Regions from separate parts of the Homo sapiens genome. Here region 2 is linked to region 1. A link means that fine-mapping ties the variant in region 1 to the expression of a gene that starts in the linked region. Tissue or cell type: whole blood. Region 1 holds a variant in brackets; the other region holds the start of a gene. All regions are shown on one strand. Distances are between the middles of the regions.

Region 1 (8,184 bases):
CTCCTCTGACCATGGGGACAAGTTCCCCCTGCTGAGCTGCCCTAAATACCACACCCAGCTTGGCCTGCAGCATCCTGGCTGGGTGGACCCAAAAAGCCACCCAGAAAGTGGGAAAAGGAACAGAGGAACAGATATGGAAGGAAATAGAGTCTATCCATTCCTGTTTTGTAGTCAGTTCTTGACCATCACCAGCTGCAAGCCAGGAGCCCCGTGGGTCACCGCCAGGCACCTGCTGTCTGCCACGAAACAGGGGCTGCAGGTCTCTTGCTCAGACTGTTGTGTGGGCAGGGCCCAGGTCGATGGGGTCAGAGGGTCCTTGGAGGTTATTTTCATGCAGGGGTCTTCAGAGGTGTGCATGCTTCAGAATCATGGAGGAGCATGTTCAAATGCCCACCAGCATCTAAGAACAGCTGATCTTGTCTATTGGTCTTCTTCTATGATTGAGGAAACTGAGGCCCGGGGGGTCTGGATGATGGTGACTGCTGAAGGCCATAGCAGGTTCAAGGGTGTCAACTTGATGCCAATCCCCCTAGTCCCATAGATTGGTCTGTCAATATGGCCACAAGCCACACCCATTCAGGGGGTGGAGGGGGGCTCCTTAGCGAGCCCCTGGAGGTGTTGGTTAGGTGCACAGGCAGTCTCTCCCCTACATCCTTTCTGCGTCCTGCAGCAGAGCAGTCACCAGGCCGATGACCTGCGAGGCTGGCTGGACCATGTCATACTCCGCAAAGAGGTGGCATACGTTCTCCTGAGGCTCTGTCTGGCTCTTGGCCACAAACCCAAAGATCCTGGTGGGGGAGGGCAGTCTGAGTGAGGGGTGGGACCCAGGGAGGCATCAGGCTGGTGGGAATGGGGTGGTGGGGGGCCCTCAGCCTGCATCTCATTCCTCCCTGCCCCTCCCTTAGCCAATTGACTCCAGCACCTCCTTATGGTGGGGCTCCCTGGGGAAGGAGATGCCTCTCCCGTCAGACTGGGAGATTTCTGAGTTCAAGCTCTGGGTTTCCTTTGTTTTGAGTGAGGGCTCCTTGAGGACAGGACCTGTGCATTCCCCATTAGAGTGGAAGCTCCCTGAGGGCAAGGATGCATCTTGATCATCAGACTGGGACATTCCAATAGCTTGAGGCTCCCTGAAGTTAGAGCCTGTGCCTCTTGCAGAAGATTGAGGGCTCCCAGGCTCATGTCACCCCCAACAGCCCAGAGGCTCTGAGGGCAGTCAAAGTCTTTCCCATCAGATGGGAGCTCCCTGAGGACCAGGGCCTGTGCCCTCATCAACACTTTGGACTATTAAAGTCAGAATGGTGCCTCTTTCCTTCTGCAGTTCCCTCCCCATGTTGGGTTTGGGGCCCTGAGACAGGAAGGCCTTACCAGGAGGGTTTGCAGTACTTCTGCCACCTGTAGGAAAAGAACATGATACCGAGTAATGAGGCTTCGCTCCATGCCACAGGACCCTGGAGGAGCAGCAGGACTGGCCAGCTGCGTCCCCACCCCACCATGCCCCACCCTACCCTCATTCTGTCACCCTGACCCCTTGAGGTTCACAGGCTCCCTCTGGGATCCCAGGCCCAGAGTCGGCAGGACGCCTTGGTGGGCAGCGGGGCCCTGGACAGCCTTCTTAGTTTGGCCCAGCCTTGAACTTACTTCCGTTGCTCAGGGTCCATACCACAGAAGCGGAGGGTGGTGAGTGGGTAATGGCGCCGGAAAAACACCCTAGGAGGAGGCGGGGAGAGAAGGGAAGCGATGACAGCCTGTCCCAGTGTCATCCTGCCTCCAGCATCTCTCGTTCCCCCCAAGCTCAGGTGCCCTGTCCTCCAAGAAGTCTCTGGGTTAGACCTTGAAGACCGCTATGGCCTTTCCCACTGGGGGGCCCTGGCGCCCCGCTCCTGCCTCTCTCCTCTCATGGGGCTTGTCTGCCTCTGTCTTACACTCTGGGGTTTTCTATCACACCCCTACCACGCCATTTAATTTTTTTTGGCCACTAACTTTTTGAGGACACGAATTACATCTTGGTCATCTCTTGTTTCTCCCTGTGAAGTGCTCAGCCCTGGATCAGGCTCCTGTTAGACTGTGAGATCCGAGCCTGGGGAAGGAACGATCTCATTCCTCTCTGGGTCCCAGTGGTCAGCCAGTCTGGCCGAGGGAAGATGTTCCATCAATGGGTGCAGGCATAATCGGCACCCATGAATACTAGTTAACTCCATTTCCTTCCTTCCTTCCTTCCTTTTTTGAGATGGAGTTTCACTCTGTCACCCAGGTTGGAGTGCAATGGCGTGCTCTCAGCTCACTACAACCTCCGCCTCCTGGGTTCAAGCAATTCTCCTGCCTCAGCCTCCCAAGTAGCTGGGATTACAGGTGCGTGCCACCATGCCCGGCTAATTTTGTATTTTTAGTAGAGACGGGGTTTCATCATGTTGACCAGGCTGGTCTCGAACTCCTGACCTCAGGTGATCCGCCCGCCTCGGCCTCCCAAAGTGCTGGGATTACAGGCATGAGCCACCGTGCCCGGCCCCCGTTAACTCCATTTTCATCAGTCATGATGAACAGGGGCTTTGGCAGTGGAGTGAGGCCTGGAGGAGGCAGGGAAGCTGCCTGGAGTCACTCAGCACATCACTGGCCCCGCTGGGTCATCCAGAACCCTGAACTTGACCTTCATCCCTGATCTGCAGCTGTCTCAGCTATCCCCTCCAGCTCTACTCCGCCAGCCCCGGAGCCCCAGGGCAAGGGAAGGCCCTTACTTCCTCTGGACATCAGTCAGAGTGATGCCCTGCTCTGTGACTTTGAAGTGGACCACGGTGGGCGTGGGGAGGATGTCCCTCTCAAAGGTGGTGGAGATGGCTTTCTGCACGGCCAGGGCTCCAGTCAGGGTCTCCACGCTCACTGAGCTCAGGTACAGGGTGTGGCAGCCTGTGGGAGGCAGACACTGCGCTGGGGCCACTGACCCAGGGCCCAGGTTCTCCCTCTGCCCAGGGCCAGGGGAGGGGGTGAGTCTCCTGTTCAGGAATCCAGTGGAGCTCCTCTTAGAGCCGCCACCCAACAGAAAGTGGGTGTGTGGGTGATCACAGTTTGAGGCCAACCCCAGAGGGCTTTGGGATCTTCTGTGGCTTTGCATCGCCCTGGCCCCTGGCCCTCCAGCATGGGGCAGGGGAGGGGATGTTGCCCTGTGTGTAGAGGTGCCCAGGAAAACATCCTTCTGTCCACACTTAACGGCTGCTCTCCTCCCCACACCTCCATCTTCAAGGTCTTGGTTCATTGGCAACGGTAGGGACAGAAGACAAGAATGGGGAAGGAAATTGTTCGTGCTCAGGGCATAGAGCAGGAACAGTCACTGAGACAAGTGCTGATGTGTGCTGGCCTCTGGGAGTGTGGGTCAGGGACCTTTCCCCTGGTGAAGGCTCCAGGACTTAGACCTGACACCCCATAGAGGATCCCAGACCCAGAACCACCTCTAGGGCAGGTTTCTCAGACCTAGAGAGACCCTAGCACGTGTGCACATGCCCATGTGTGTGCAGGAGGGACTGTAAGTTCTGCCACTCCCCCCACCCCCCACCCTGCCCCACTTCCCTGCTGGCCTCTCATCTTCTGTTTTACAGGGGTGATGGGGAGCGGGTGTGGCACCTTGTTAAAGATGCAGAAA[C/A]AAAGCTGAGATGGGAAACACGTGTGTGCCTGTGCGTGTGTGCGTGCATGCGTGCGTGTGTGCAGGGTTGGGAGGTGCCCTCTTGGGGCACAGCCAAGCTTGGCGCCTCCCTTCCTGTACCACTCACCCGCAGATTTCTTCTGGCAGGAGGCTGGGCTGTCTGTAGAGTCCGAGGCCCCATCTGCACCTCCCAGTTCTGAGCCAAGGCAAAGAAACAGGCCCCCCAAAGGGGCGGGGGTGGAGTGAATGGACCCCTCTCACAGGAACAGGCCTCATGAATCCCTTTGAAGATCTCCCACCTCCACCCCCATCTCCAGGAAGTGACTCAAACCAGGTGTGATTACCGTAATTAGGCAAACAGGCCACTTTGGGCTCCCTAAATGCTTAGTTTGCAACCCTTTTGATCTCTTCATCCCCTCCTCGCCCCCCCACCTCTTAGATGGCTGCCATGATCTTGTCCTCACAGGCCCCTGACCTCCTCACTTCTTTTGGACCCTGTCTCAACCCCTGACCTGTCTTTGCAGAAAGCGAGGAGGCTCTCACCATCGCTCCTCTGGGGCTCCCTTGCCTTGATGCCCTTCCAGAAACAGCCCTTCTCGAGCTTCTCCTGCACACCCCTGAGATGATCTATTTCATCTGAGCTGCCCCCCTACCTGGCTGTATGCTCTGGATAGGGCATGCTGATCTGGGTTCAAGGTCTGACTCTGTGGGCCTTTGGGCAAATTACGTAACATCTAGAACCCTCGTTTTCTTTTCCTTCCTTTCCTTCCTTCTTTCTCTCTTTCTCTCTTTCTTTCTTTCTTAGATGAAGTCTTGCTCTGTCGCTCTGTCACCCAGGCTAGAGTGCAGTGGTGCGATCTTAGCTCACTGCAACCTCTGCCTCCCCGGCTCAAGTGATTCTCCTGCCTCAGCCTCCTGAGTAGCTGGGATTACAGGCGCCCACCACCACGCCCAGCTAAATTTTTGTATTTTTAGTAGAGACGGGGTTTCACCATGTTGGCCAGGCTGGTTTCGAACTCCTGACCTCAAGTGATCTGCCCGCCTTGGCCTCCCGAAGTGCTGGGATTACAGGCGTGAGTCACCACGCCCAGCCCTTATTTTCTTATCTGTGAAATGGGGATGATAACAGCAAAGTCTACTTCACAAGCTTGTAGTGAAGCATGAATGGGTGAGTGAGTGCTCAACAAATGCTGGACCTGGAAAGAGAAAACCTCTCCAAACTATTTGATTTAGGCTCTTTCACCCTCTCAAAGCAGGCTGCTATTTATCCAACATCCATTCTATGCCAGGCATTGCGCTAAGAGCCTTGCCCGGGCTATCTCTTTCGGTCTGCACAGCAATCCTATAAGTAGGTATGATGAGGAAACTGAGGCTCAGAGAGGTCAACATTCTCAAATTTTCACAGCTAGGAGGTGGAGATGTTGAGCGACTCCAGTGCACACAGTTTTAACCGTGACACTAAAATAATCCACCAACAAGGTAGGAGTGAACCCCATTTCTAATGAGAACAAACAGGTCCCCCACCTTGGCATTGCCTCTTTGGGGCCCAGACCCACCTCTCTGTGGGATGGTGAGTTTGCAGGGCAGGGCCAGGGCCATGATGGAATGCTGGCACACGAAGGCAGAGAGGCTCCCTGAAAGGAAGCAAGCAGCCCTGCATGAGTAGAGCTTCCCCAACCCACCCCTCAGCTCACAACGGAGACTTCGCTGGCCCCCCATCCCGGGGGAGCCTGGAGGCTGGGGAGTCTCACCAAAGTAGGGCTCCTCATCTGCTCCTTTGAGATGCACTCCTTTGGCAGACGACTCGATGAGGAAGTGTCGGATGAGGTCATTGCTGTCCTCACCTGGACAGAGAAGAAAGAGTGCATTCGGATAGAATTCCACCTTGTGGCCGGGCGCGGTGGCTCACGCCTGTAATCCCAGCACTTTGGGAGGCCGAGGTGGGCAGATCACTTGAGGTCAGGAGTTCGAGATCAGCCTGACCCACATGGTAAAACCCTATCTCTACTAAAGACACACACACACACACACACACACACACACACAGTCACACACACAAAGCCGGGCGTGGTTCACATGCCTGTAGTCCCAGCTACCCGGGAGGCTGAGGCAGGAGAATTGCTTGAACCTGGGAGGCAGAGGTTGCAGTGAGCCGAGATTGTGCTACTGCACTCCAGCCTGGGTGACACAGTGAGACTCTGTCTCACCGGAAAAAAAAAAAATTCCACCTTGTCCATCCCCCTGCCTCTCCCTCCCACAGAGGAGGTGCCAACACATCTGCTCAATGGCTCCAGCCACACCCTCTTCAGGAAACCTTTCTCTTCTTCTTTTTTTGGGGGTGGGGTGGGGAAACCTTTCTGCTGGTCAAGAGTTATCAGGGATTTTTTTTTTTTTTTAGACAGAGTCTTGCTCTGTCTCTTAGACTGGAGTGCAGCGGCATGATCTCGGCTTACTGCAGCCTCAACCTCCTGGGCTTAAGGAATCCTCCCACCTCAGCTTCCTGAGTAGCTGGGACTACAGGCGTGCCCCACCATGTCGGGCTAATTCTTTTGTAGAGACAAGGTCTCACTATTTTGCTCAGGCTGGTCTCGAACTCCTGAGCTCAAGCAGTTCTCCTGCTTCGGCCTAGGGATTATTTTATTTTATTTTTTTTAGACAGGGTCTCATTCTTTGGTCTAGGAAGGAGTGCAGTGGTGTGATCATGGCTCACTGCAGCCTCAAAGACCTCCTGGGTTCAAGTGATTCTGCTGCCTCAGGCTCCCAAGTACCTGGGACTACAGGTGTGCTCCACCACACCTGGGTAATTTTTGTAGCGACAGGGTTTTGCCATATTGCTCAAGCTGGTCTCAGATTCCTGGGCTCAAGTGATCCTCCTGCCTCGGCCTCCCAAAGTGCTGGGATTACTGGCGTGAGCCACTGTGCCTGGCAAGGAAACTTCTTAATTATTTAGATAAATGTCGACTCTTTGGTCTGGTTTCTGTCTCCCCCTGCCCACCAGGTCATCTCTGCTGGAGCCACGCTGGCCCCGGGGGTGGGGAGGTGAACAATGACCTTCTGACTCCTTTCCACCAGTCCACAGTGTCCTCCTCAGTCTGGGCTCATTGCCTCTTGCAAGGCGTCCTTTATAAGTAACACCCTCCCCAGAGGTCACTTTCTTATTGTGACAGTGAGGCATACTGTCAAGAACACAAGGCTGGGTGTTTCATCCTCCCTTTATCACTTAATTGCTCTGGAGTCATTAAGTAACTCTGGGAGCCTCCGTTATCTCATCCGTTAAATAAGAAGGTGCAATCCTGGGGTTTGAGTGAGGCCTATGACCCAGGTACCTTGTACTGTAATCATCTGTTTTCATCTGTCTCCCTAGTGAGGTGGTGTCTGTGTCTGATTCCACTGTATCCCTGCTGCCTCACACAGTGCCTGGTGTGTGGTGATGCTCCATAGATGTTTGCTATCAAATAAGCATGGGAGACCACAGGAAAGCATATAAGCTATCACACACATGTGCGCTGAGCTAGTACACAAACCTGGTAAGCTATCACCTGTGAGATAAGCTAGCTGCGTGTGTAATCACACATTAGGTTCCCTGGAAATGAATCCAGTTTGACTCCAAGAAGAGCAGCCTAGAGGGGGCTAGGACCCTCCTCCTTCTCTCCCACCATCAGAAAAAAGCAGGGAAGTGGGGGTGGGGCTCGGGAAGGCAGAAGCACGCAGGCTTGCTGTGAAAGGCGTTTTTCAGGGTGCCTTGGGGCTGGAGGGCATCGGGGAGAACACTGGGGTGGACGCTTCTCCTAGGAGCTGTTATAAGACTGGCGCCATGTCACCCTGAAAGCTAGTGCCAGAGCCAGGACTGGAACCTACCACACCCCGCTGCCTCAGTGAGGCCTTGAGTGAGCACAGAGACAGACGCATACCTGGTCGACTCTGAGCAGACGCGGGAACCTCCTGCACCTTCAGGGCCAGGCCGAAGGAGCCTCGGTATGAAGAGCTGTCCCTTATGACAAAAGCCCCTGGCTCCTCCTTCCTCAGCAGCTCGATTGCTGGAACAATCCTTGAGTCAGAGATGGACACCGCCCCACCTGGACACCCTGTCCCCAGCCCCGTAGGGTCTTCACAGAGCAGATGTTACAGAGTCACCTTTTGTCCCCAGGAAGTCCTTTGTACTGTCAAATCTCCACCATTCTTGCTGTGGTTCCTACTTCCTCGGGAGGTCATGAGGTCAGCAGGACATCCCCCTCCCCCGCTTCCCAGGACCCACTATTTGCCATTCCTTAACTGTAACCCAGGGCCCTGCCTGATGCAAAGTGCAAGACCCAGACCCTATTCTGGGGTCACTCGTGCTTCCTTTTACCTTGCTCTCGGGTGATGTTTGGCTTAAACCAGTATTTAGATGTGTCCATCACGAACTTCATGGTGGGCTGCATGTCCCTGGCGGGACCTGGAGACAGACAGAGAAGGGGGACCCTGTAGGCTGGACAGACGGGAGCTGAGGGATGTTCACCAGAGAAGGCTGGAGACCCTTCCCTACTCTATTGCCCCAAGGTTTCATTCAACCA
Region 2 (8,166 bases), 20 kb after region 1:
GGTCTTCCTGGAGGAAGGGACACGCAAAGGGAGATAAGAAGGAAAAGCAAGAGGTAGCTGCGCAAGTTGAGTAGGGATGAGGAGGCAGAGAGGAAGATTTAAGTTAGAGGGGATGAGCTGGGCGTGATGGCTCACACCTGTAATCCCAGCACTTTGGGAGTCTGAGGTGGGCTGATCCCTTGAGGTCAGGAGTTCGAGACCAGCCTGGTGAACATGGTGAAACCCCATCTCTACTAAAAATATAAAAATTAGCTGGCATGATGGCACGTGCCTGTAATTCCAGCTACTCAGGAGACTGGGGCAGGAGGATTGCTTGAAGCTGGGAGGCAGAGGTTGCAGTGAGCCGAGATCGAGCCAATGCACTGCAGCCTGGATGACAGAGCAAGACTCTGTCTCTAACTAAACAAATAAACAAATAAATAAACAAAGTAGAGGGGACCATTTGTGCAAAAGTCTGGCCAGCAGGGAAGCTCACAAGACCCTATTGAGCACCTGAGTAACAGAGCACCTGGGGTGGGTGGAGGAGATGGGGCGGGGGAGGCAGGCTGGCCAGATCCCGTAGGGCCTTGCAGGCTGGGCTCAGGACTGCCAGCTCAACCCTGAGGGCAACAGGGAGGCTCTGAAAAGTTTTGAGCTGGGGAGTGACATCATCAGATGATATTCATTTCCTTGGGGCTCATTTGGGAAAGAGATGTCTCAACCTCCTCATTTTCCTTACTGTGAAAAGTCCTTTCCATTGTCTAACCTTAATGCCACATGCTAGTTTCTTGTAGGTGGGGCTTGGTAAGGAGGTAAGAAGTTCTGGGACTGAGGCTGCCAAGAAAACTGTACAGAGCTGCAATGTGCTGGTTACACTCCCATTGCCTGCTCTGAGCTTTGCTGCTGGTCCCCAGCCCCCACCAACACCCCCCAACTCTCTTTCTTCTCGTTGCCAAAACGCCTCCTTTACGTCCTGTTTTGGAGTCAGACCTTAGCACTGGAAAAGGTATCTGAGACTAGCCTGGGAGAAGAGAAAGTGGACTCTGGGATCCGAAGGTTTAGATTTGACTTCTAGCTCAAATAGCTCCTTATGGTGTGACTCTGACCCTGAGTTTCCTCATCTGTGAGATGGTAATGAGAATTCCTGCACCCTCCCAGAGAGTGTTATGGAACCAGTGAGGTGCTCCTTGTGAAGGTAGTTAGGCAATTCTAAATAGTACTTAGAAATAAGGACTTATGGAGTATAACAGCCTCATAATAGTAGCTTCCATTTATTGAGCGCTGACCATGTGCCAAATAGTTTACATACGAATTACATTGGTAACTCAATCCTCTCACAGCTCTAGGAAGTACTGCACCCTATTGTCAGTCCTCTTGTTTTTTTTTCTTGAGACAAGGTGTCGCTCTGTTGCCCAGGCTAGAGTGCAGTGGCACAGTCATGGCTCACTGCAGCCTTGACCTCCTGGGGCTCAAGCGATTCTCCCAGCTCACCCTCCCGAGTAGCTGGGACTACAGGCTTGTGCCCTATACCCAGAGAATTTTTTGTAGAAAGAGGGTCTCACTTTGTTGCCCAGGCTGGTCTTGAACTCCTGGGCTCAAGTGCTCCTCCTTCCTCGGCCTCCCAAAGTGCTAGGATTACAGGTGTGAGCCGCTGTGCCTGGCCTTATTTATTTATTTTGAGTTGTCAGTCCATTTTACAGATGAAGATGCTGAGACTCGGAGAGGTCAAGAAACACGCTTCACATCCAGAAAGATGGTGGAGCTGGGATTCAAACCCAGGTGTGGGATTTTGGAATCTTAATTCCTTATGCTAAGGGAGGAGACCACCCCTCATATTGTCTTATGCCCAATTTCTGCCTCCAAAGAAAGAAAAAGTAAAAACTAAAAGGCAGAAATGAAATCCACAAGCAGACAGCCCAGCGCCACACCCTGGGCCTGGTAGTTAAAGATCGACCCCTGACCTAATCGGTTATGTTATCTATAGATTACAGACATTGTATAGAAATGCACTGTGAAAATCCCTTTCCTGTTTTGTTCCCACGTAATTACCGGTGCGTGCAGCCCCCAGTCACGTACCCCCTGCTTGCTCAATTGATCACGACCCTCTCACACGCACCCCCTTAGAGTTGTGAGCCCTTAAAAGGGACAGGAAATGCTCACTCGGGGAGCTCGGCTCTTGAGACAGGAGTCTTGCTGATGCCCCCGGCCGAATAAACCCCTTCCTTCTTTAACTTGGTGTCTGAGGAGTTTTGTCTGCGGCTCGTCCTGCTACAATGCCACATGGAATTCAAGTGCAGAGGGACACCTGGGATCTAGAGAGGGGGCATGATTGGCTGAAGGTCGCACAGGTTTCATGAGAAAAGCCAGGGCCCCTTCCCCTCTCCTGCCTCCCCCAACGCCCGTGGCTCCGGTAGGTCTGATGCCAGACTTTTCCTTGGCCAGGTCCTGCAGGGGGCGGGGCATCCCGGGCACGGGAAGCTTTCTATAAATGGAAGTGGAAGGGAGCCGGCCTCTGCGCTCCCGCCCTCCCGGGACAGCTGAGGACACAGAGCCGGAACCACGGCTTTTTCCACACAGGCTCCAAGTGGACTGGGTTTGTTGGGACAGGATCTGGGCGCTCCCTGCAGGGTTTTCTGGCTGTGTCCTGCAGAGGAGGCTGGGGCTGCTGACTTTGCAGAGCTCAAGGAGGGCTGGGTGTCCCCTCGCAACCAGGACCCAGTATACCTGCTTACTAATTTGGACACAGCTTTTGTGCCACGCTGGGCAAGCGTCCTTTCCTCTCTGGGCAGACCTCAGTTGTCCCATCTGTGTGATGGGGATGTGATAATAACAGACACTGAACACCTTGCATTTTCTCAACAGCTCTCTGAGGAGGGTGCTATTGCTGCAGGGCTGGAGAGGTTGAGGAATTTGCCCAAGGTCATACAACCCCAACTGTGAATTGGGGTTTAAACCCAGGTGGTCTTGCTCCACGGTCCCACACTTTTAGCCTCTGCTGCTGCTTCACATATTTAAGAACCCTGTCCACCGCTGCCCCTTCTGGGATTCTGGAACCAAGAGGGACAGACCTGGAGCTGAGCAAAGGGCAGGCAGCCCCTACGCTCCTCTTCAGCCTCCCCTCACTTTTAAGGCTCTGCGTCGCCCTTGGATGTACCAAGGCAGGGCTCCATCTTACTCCTGTATTCCTGAATGCTGCCCCCTTCGCGGCCCCGCACACTCCTCTAACTTGCTCTTTCTTGCTGTAAGTGGTGGGGAGAGTCCCTGGGCCCGGGGCTCTGTGTGGTTGGGAGGCACGGGGCGGGGGCAAGGAGGGCTCCAGCCACCTCTGCTCTATTTGTAGGTGCCCCCTACCCGCTCCCACTTCTGATTCTGACTCAGATCTCTTTCTTTGTTCCCAAGGACTCTGGGGAGTCCTGGTGCCTTGGCAAATCCCCTCTTCCGTGTCATTGCCAACCTCTTCTCCTGACTTACTCTCTCCCAATGAGCCCAGGTCAGTGAAGGGAGAGGGTGGGGCAAGGGTAAAGCCTGAGTCTCCCCCAAAGCACTTTGCCTCATTAGCCCAATCTCCACTGCACCCCCTATTTTTGAAAACTGGCTCCCGATCTTCCCATCCCTCCCACCCAGACCCGGTGACGCAGGACGTGGACCTCAGGCAGGGACCCATAGGACCAGTGAAGGCCAGCCGCCCCATCTCCCAGTCCTGTCTACCTCTGAAGTGCCCAGAGGGCTCCCAGAGCGCTGGGAGGCGAGAGGCCTGGGTTCTGTGTCCAGTCCCTTTCCATGACCTCAGGCAAGCCTCTTCTCTGTGGCCCTCAGCTCTCTCATCTATTTGCCGAGGGGCACAGGTTTAGTTCCCTTGAACTGCTGAACTCCGCGGTCTGTGATCCTGAGACCATCTCTGTCTCATCCACATCCTCCACCCCATTTCTCCCCACCTTCACTCTGAGCCCTGAGAAATGGAGAAGCTGAAGACAAAAGGTTAAATGAGGCTGGGCTCACGCCTGTAATTCCAGCACTTTGGGAGGCTAAGGTGGGAGGATCACCTGAGGTCAGGAGTTTGAGACCAGCCTGGCCAACATGGTGAAACCGCGTCTCTACTAAACATAAGAAAATTAGCCGGGCATGGTGGCAAACATCTGTAATCCCTGTTACTTGGGAGGCTGAGGCAGGAGAATCGCTTGAACCCTGGAGGCAGACGTTGGCAGTGAGCCGAGATCGCGCCACTGCACTCCAGCTTGGGTGACAGAGCAAGACTCCATCTCAAAAAAAAAAAAAAAAATGTTTAAATGAATCAGGGCCAGCAAAGGTGCTCCGTGTTCCTCTCTTCTTAAAGAATAAAGGCACCTACCTGGTGTCCACAGGTGGGCAGACTGTTGCCTTCACTACTGGCTCCTGGGACCAAGACGACTCAGAGTCCAGGTGAAGAGTCAGGAGAGGCGCCAGTTCACCTCCAGACCTGCCTTAAAAGCAGCTTGCCCGCCTTCTCTCCTCCCCTCCGGGCGGGCCCTGCACGTGGCCCTGACAGCAGTAGGCCCCACCCCTGCTGGATCCAGTGAGCTCAGGTGGGGCTGGCACAGGCAGCAGGAAGGGAAGCACTGGGTGGTGGGTTTTGGGTCTGGGTGTGTGTGAGGGGCTCCCAAGTTCCTGCTTGGGCTTCTCGTGGCACCACATGGCCAGGGAGTCCTTGCTTGGACAGGGCATAGCTAGAATCAAGGTGTGCAGTGGGCACTCCTCAGGTGCTGGCTGGGGCAGAGGCCATGGGTTGGCAGAGCTGGCAGAGAGTGAGGGCCTTGACAAAGCAGGATGCCAGTGGGCAGGAGACCCTCTGCAGTCCCCCTTTGTGCTGGGTCACACTGGGACAGGCACAGGGTAAGGGCCCACTGGAAGTAAGGCTAGGCACGAGCTTGTCTTTTCTTCTTTCTCTCCTTTTACAGTAATGACTCTAGCTTGGGATGGGGCCTCTAACTCAAGGAAAGGAGGCTGAAGTGTCTGGAGGGCTTTGAGAAGGGGCTTATAGCTGTTCCTTCACTCATGGGCTATCTCTGTCCCTCGTCTGGTCTGTGCCCCAGGGTGGAAGTTCCCTGAGGGGAGGACATTGGAGGGTGAGATCAGGAAGCCCAGAAGTCTGGTCTGGTAGCTCCTTCTCCATGGTTCCAACTCTCTCCCTGTTCTAGAGGGGCAGGGGTCCTAGAATGTTGTAAGGAGGTGTTCAGACATGGTGAGGGGAGGGTGCTGATGGCAGAGCCTGGTCTGGGAGCGGTCTGAAGTGAGGGAGCTGGCGAAGTCTCCAGCCCAGGGACTCATGGTGATCCCAGTAGGCTAATCTCAGGGGTGGGTTGCCCCATGCCCCCATTATGCCCAGTGGAAGGGCTTCTGGCCTTACAGTTTTTGATGCCCTGGGGTTTCACTGAGGCATGGTGAACTAGTGCATGGGAGGCCGGTGAGCAAAGCTATGGAAAGTTATATAAGGTGCCCCTTCCTGATGGTGACATAAAAGGTGTCCCTAGGTGTCCATGCAGCCTTGTTGGCACATGGCTTGATGAGCAATTATGTCTTTGGATGAAAAATGTGGTGCTCCTGCCCTGGAGTGGATGTCACTGCACATGGCGGCTTCCCCCATGAGGCTGTGGCTCATGATTGTGGGAGAGTGGGAGGGGCGACTCGTGAGTTTCTTGAGTGGAAGGGGCAGGTTACAGTAGGGCGAAGTGTTGGGCAGAGACTGTGGCAACTCCGGGGTAACCCTGGCCATCTCCCCTGGGGCTGGTATGGATAGCCTCTGCAGTGGTTCTTCAGGGCCAGGGGGTCCTCCAGCCTTACAGACCCATACCTGGGGGTTATGGTCTTTCTTGGCAGATTGGCTCTTTTGTTTCACACCCAGCTGCTTCCTTTAGCTTAAGATGGTCTCAGAACAGTGATTTCAGCCCCAGCTGCCTCACAAACCCTGCCCAACACCACATCACTGCCCTTTGCCGTGATCATCAAGGGATGGATGGAGTGGCATTTCTTTATACATCTATAGATATGACATTTTTTCTTTAGCCTATGGATGTGATAGATTACATTAATTTACTTTTGAATTTTGAACCCTCCTTGCATACCTGGGATGAACCCCCTGGTCATGGTATATAATTCTTTTTTTTTTTGTGATGGGGTCTTGCTATGTTGCCCAGGCTGGTCTCAACCTCCCGGACTCAAGTGATCTTCCCACTTCAGACTTTGGAGTAGCTGGGATTACAGACATGTACCACTATGCCTGGGTCTGTATAATTCTTCTAATACATTGTTGGGTTCAATTTGCTAACATTTTGTGGAGGATTTTTGCATCTATGTTCATGAGTGATATTGGTGTCTAGTTTTCTTTTGTATCTCTGGTTTCAGCAATGCTGGCCTCATAAAATGAGTTGGGAAGTGTTCCTTCTGCTTCTATCTTCTGAAAGAGGTTGTAGAGAAGTGGTCCTATTTCTTCCTCAAATGTTTGGTAGATTTCACCAGTAAAACTGTCTGGTCCTGGTGCTTTCTGTTTTGGAAGGTTATTAATTATTAATTCAATTCTTTGCTAGATATAAGCCTATTCACAGCATTTCTTTTCAACCTCAAAATACACTATTTCCCTAGTTGACGGGGGCACCTTGTCCTACATCTACTCTTCTGAAAGAAGGGATTCCAAGTAGATTAAAAAAAAAAAGTCCAGCCTATATTTTGATGTATTCTGCATGTCTCTCACTAAGGGAGAGGGAAAATCAATTAAAGAAACCAAGAAATGGCCGGGTGCAGTGGCTCACGCCTGTAATCCCAGCACTTTGGGAGGCCGAGGTGGGTGGATCACGAGGTCAGGAGATCGAGATCATCCTGGCTAACACAGTGAAACCCCGTCTCTATTAAAATACAAAAAATGAGCCGGGCGTGGTGGCGGGTGCCTGCAGTCCCAGCTACTCGGGAGGCTGAGGCAGGAGAATGGCGTGAACCCAGGAGGCAGAGCTTGCAGTGAGCCGAGATCGCACCGCTGCACTCCAGCCTGGGTGACAGAGCAAGACTCCATCTCAAAAAAAAAAGAAACTAAGAAATGTAATTTCTGACTGAGTTTTTTTCTTGTAGAGAACCCACATTACTCATTCATTCAAAATACATTTATTTGGCTGGGTGTGGTGGCTCACGCCTGTAATCCCAGCACTTTGGGAGGGCACACTGCCGAGGTGGGCAGATCGCCTGAGATCAGGAGTTTGAGACCAGCCTGGCCAACATGGTGAAATCCCGTCTCTACTAAAACCACAAAAACTAGCCAGGCATGGTGGTGGGCACCTGTAATCCCAGCTACTCGGGAGGCTGAGGCAGGAGAATCTCCTGAACCTGGGAGGTGGAGGTTGCAGTGAGCTGAGATTACGCCACTGTACTCCAGCCTGGGTGTCAGAGTGAGACTCCATCTAGAACAAACAAACAAACAAATAAACAAAAAACAACAATTTATTGAGTGCCCCTGCATTCAGATGTTAGGATATAGAGATGAATGGGACAAGGCTCCTGCCCGCAAGGAGCACACTGTTCATGGGGGAGTATGACTCATAGACAGAAAGGCCCCCAAATCTCAGCCTGGTGCAACCAAGAGGCCTACAAAAGGCTGGAGCTGAGCCATCTTCTGTCAGCGTTAGTCGTGTGTGGATACGGAGCGCCTGAAATGTGGCTAGTCTAAACAAAGATGTGCTGTGGGTGCAAAATACAATTCAGATTTTAAAGACTCAGTATGAAAAATTATATGAAATATCTCAATAGTAATTGAATAATTTTTTTTTTTTCTAGAAATGCAGTAACATTATGTTGCCCAGGCTGGTCTCAAACTCCTGGCTTCAAGCTATACTCCCACCTCGGCCTCCCAAAGGGCTGGGATTACAGGCGTGAGCCACCATGCTTGCTCAGTAATTTTTTATATTGATTGTGTGTGGAAATGATGCTGTTTTATAGATACTGGGTTAAATAAAAACATTATTAAAATTAATTTCCTCTGCTTCTTTTTACTTTTTAAGATGTGTTTTATTAGTTTCTCGAGACTATCGTAACAAATTACCACAAACCTGATGCTTTAAAACAACAAACATTTATTCTGTCACAGTCTGGAGCCTGAAATTGGACAGAGCCATGCTCCTTTCAGGGATTGAAAGGGAGAATCCATTCCTTGCCTCTTCAAATTTCTGG

What was found. PIP is the estimated chance that this variant, and not a neighbour inherited with it, causes the effect.
Region 2: TNS4 starts here. The variant in region 1 is fine-mapped to the expression of TNS4 in whole blood (TOPMed, PIP above 0.99).

The regions. Positions count from the first base shown.
Region 1 is chr17:40,476,942-40,485,125 of GRCh38, forward strand. It overlaps TNS4 (tensin 4), which reads right to left. Exons shown (of 13, transcript NM_032865.6): 5 at 7,980-8,066; 6 at 7,543-7,668; 7 at 5,383-5,475; 8 at 5,188-5,265; 9 at 3,759-3,827; 10 at 2,733-2,901; 11 at 1,639-1,707; 12 at 1,366-1,392; 13 at 1-788. The coding sequence ends at 647. Among named protein-coding and RNA genes, the nearest start is that of TNS4, 21 kb to the right of the region's middle. RefSeq lists an enhancer at 3,176-4,375 and a silencer at 4,358-4,543. The variant C/A (reference allele first, on the strand shown) is at 3,632.
Region 2 is chr17:40,497,207-40,505,372 of GRCh38, forward strand. TNS4 (tensin 4) reads right to left here and starts at 4,417. Exons shown (of 13, transcript NM_032865.6): 1 at 4,328-4,417. RefSeq lists an enhancer at 1,959-2,830.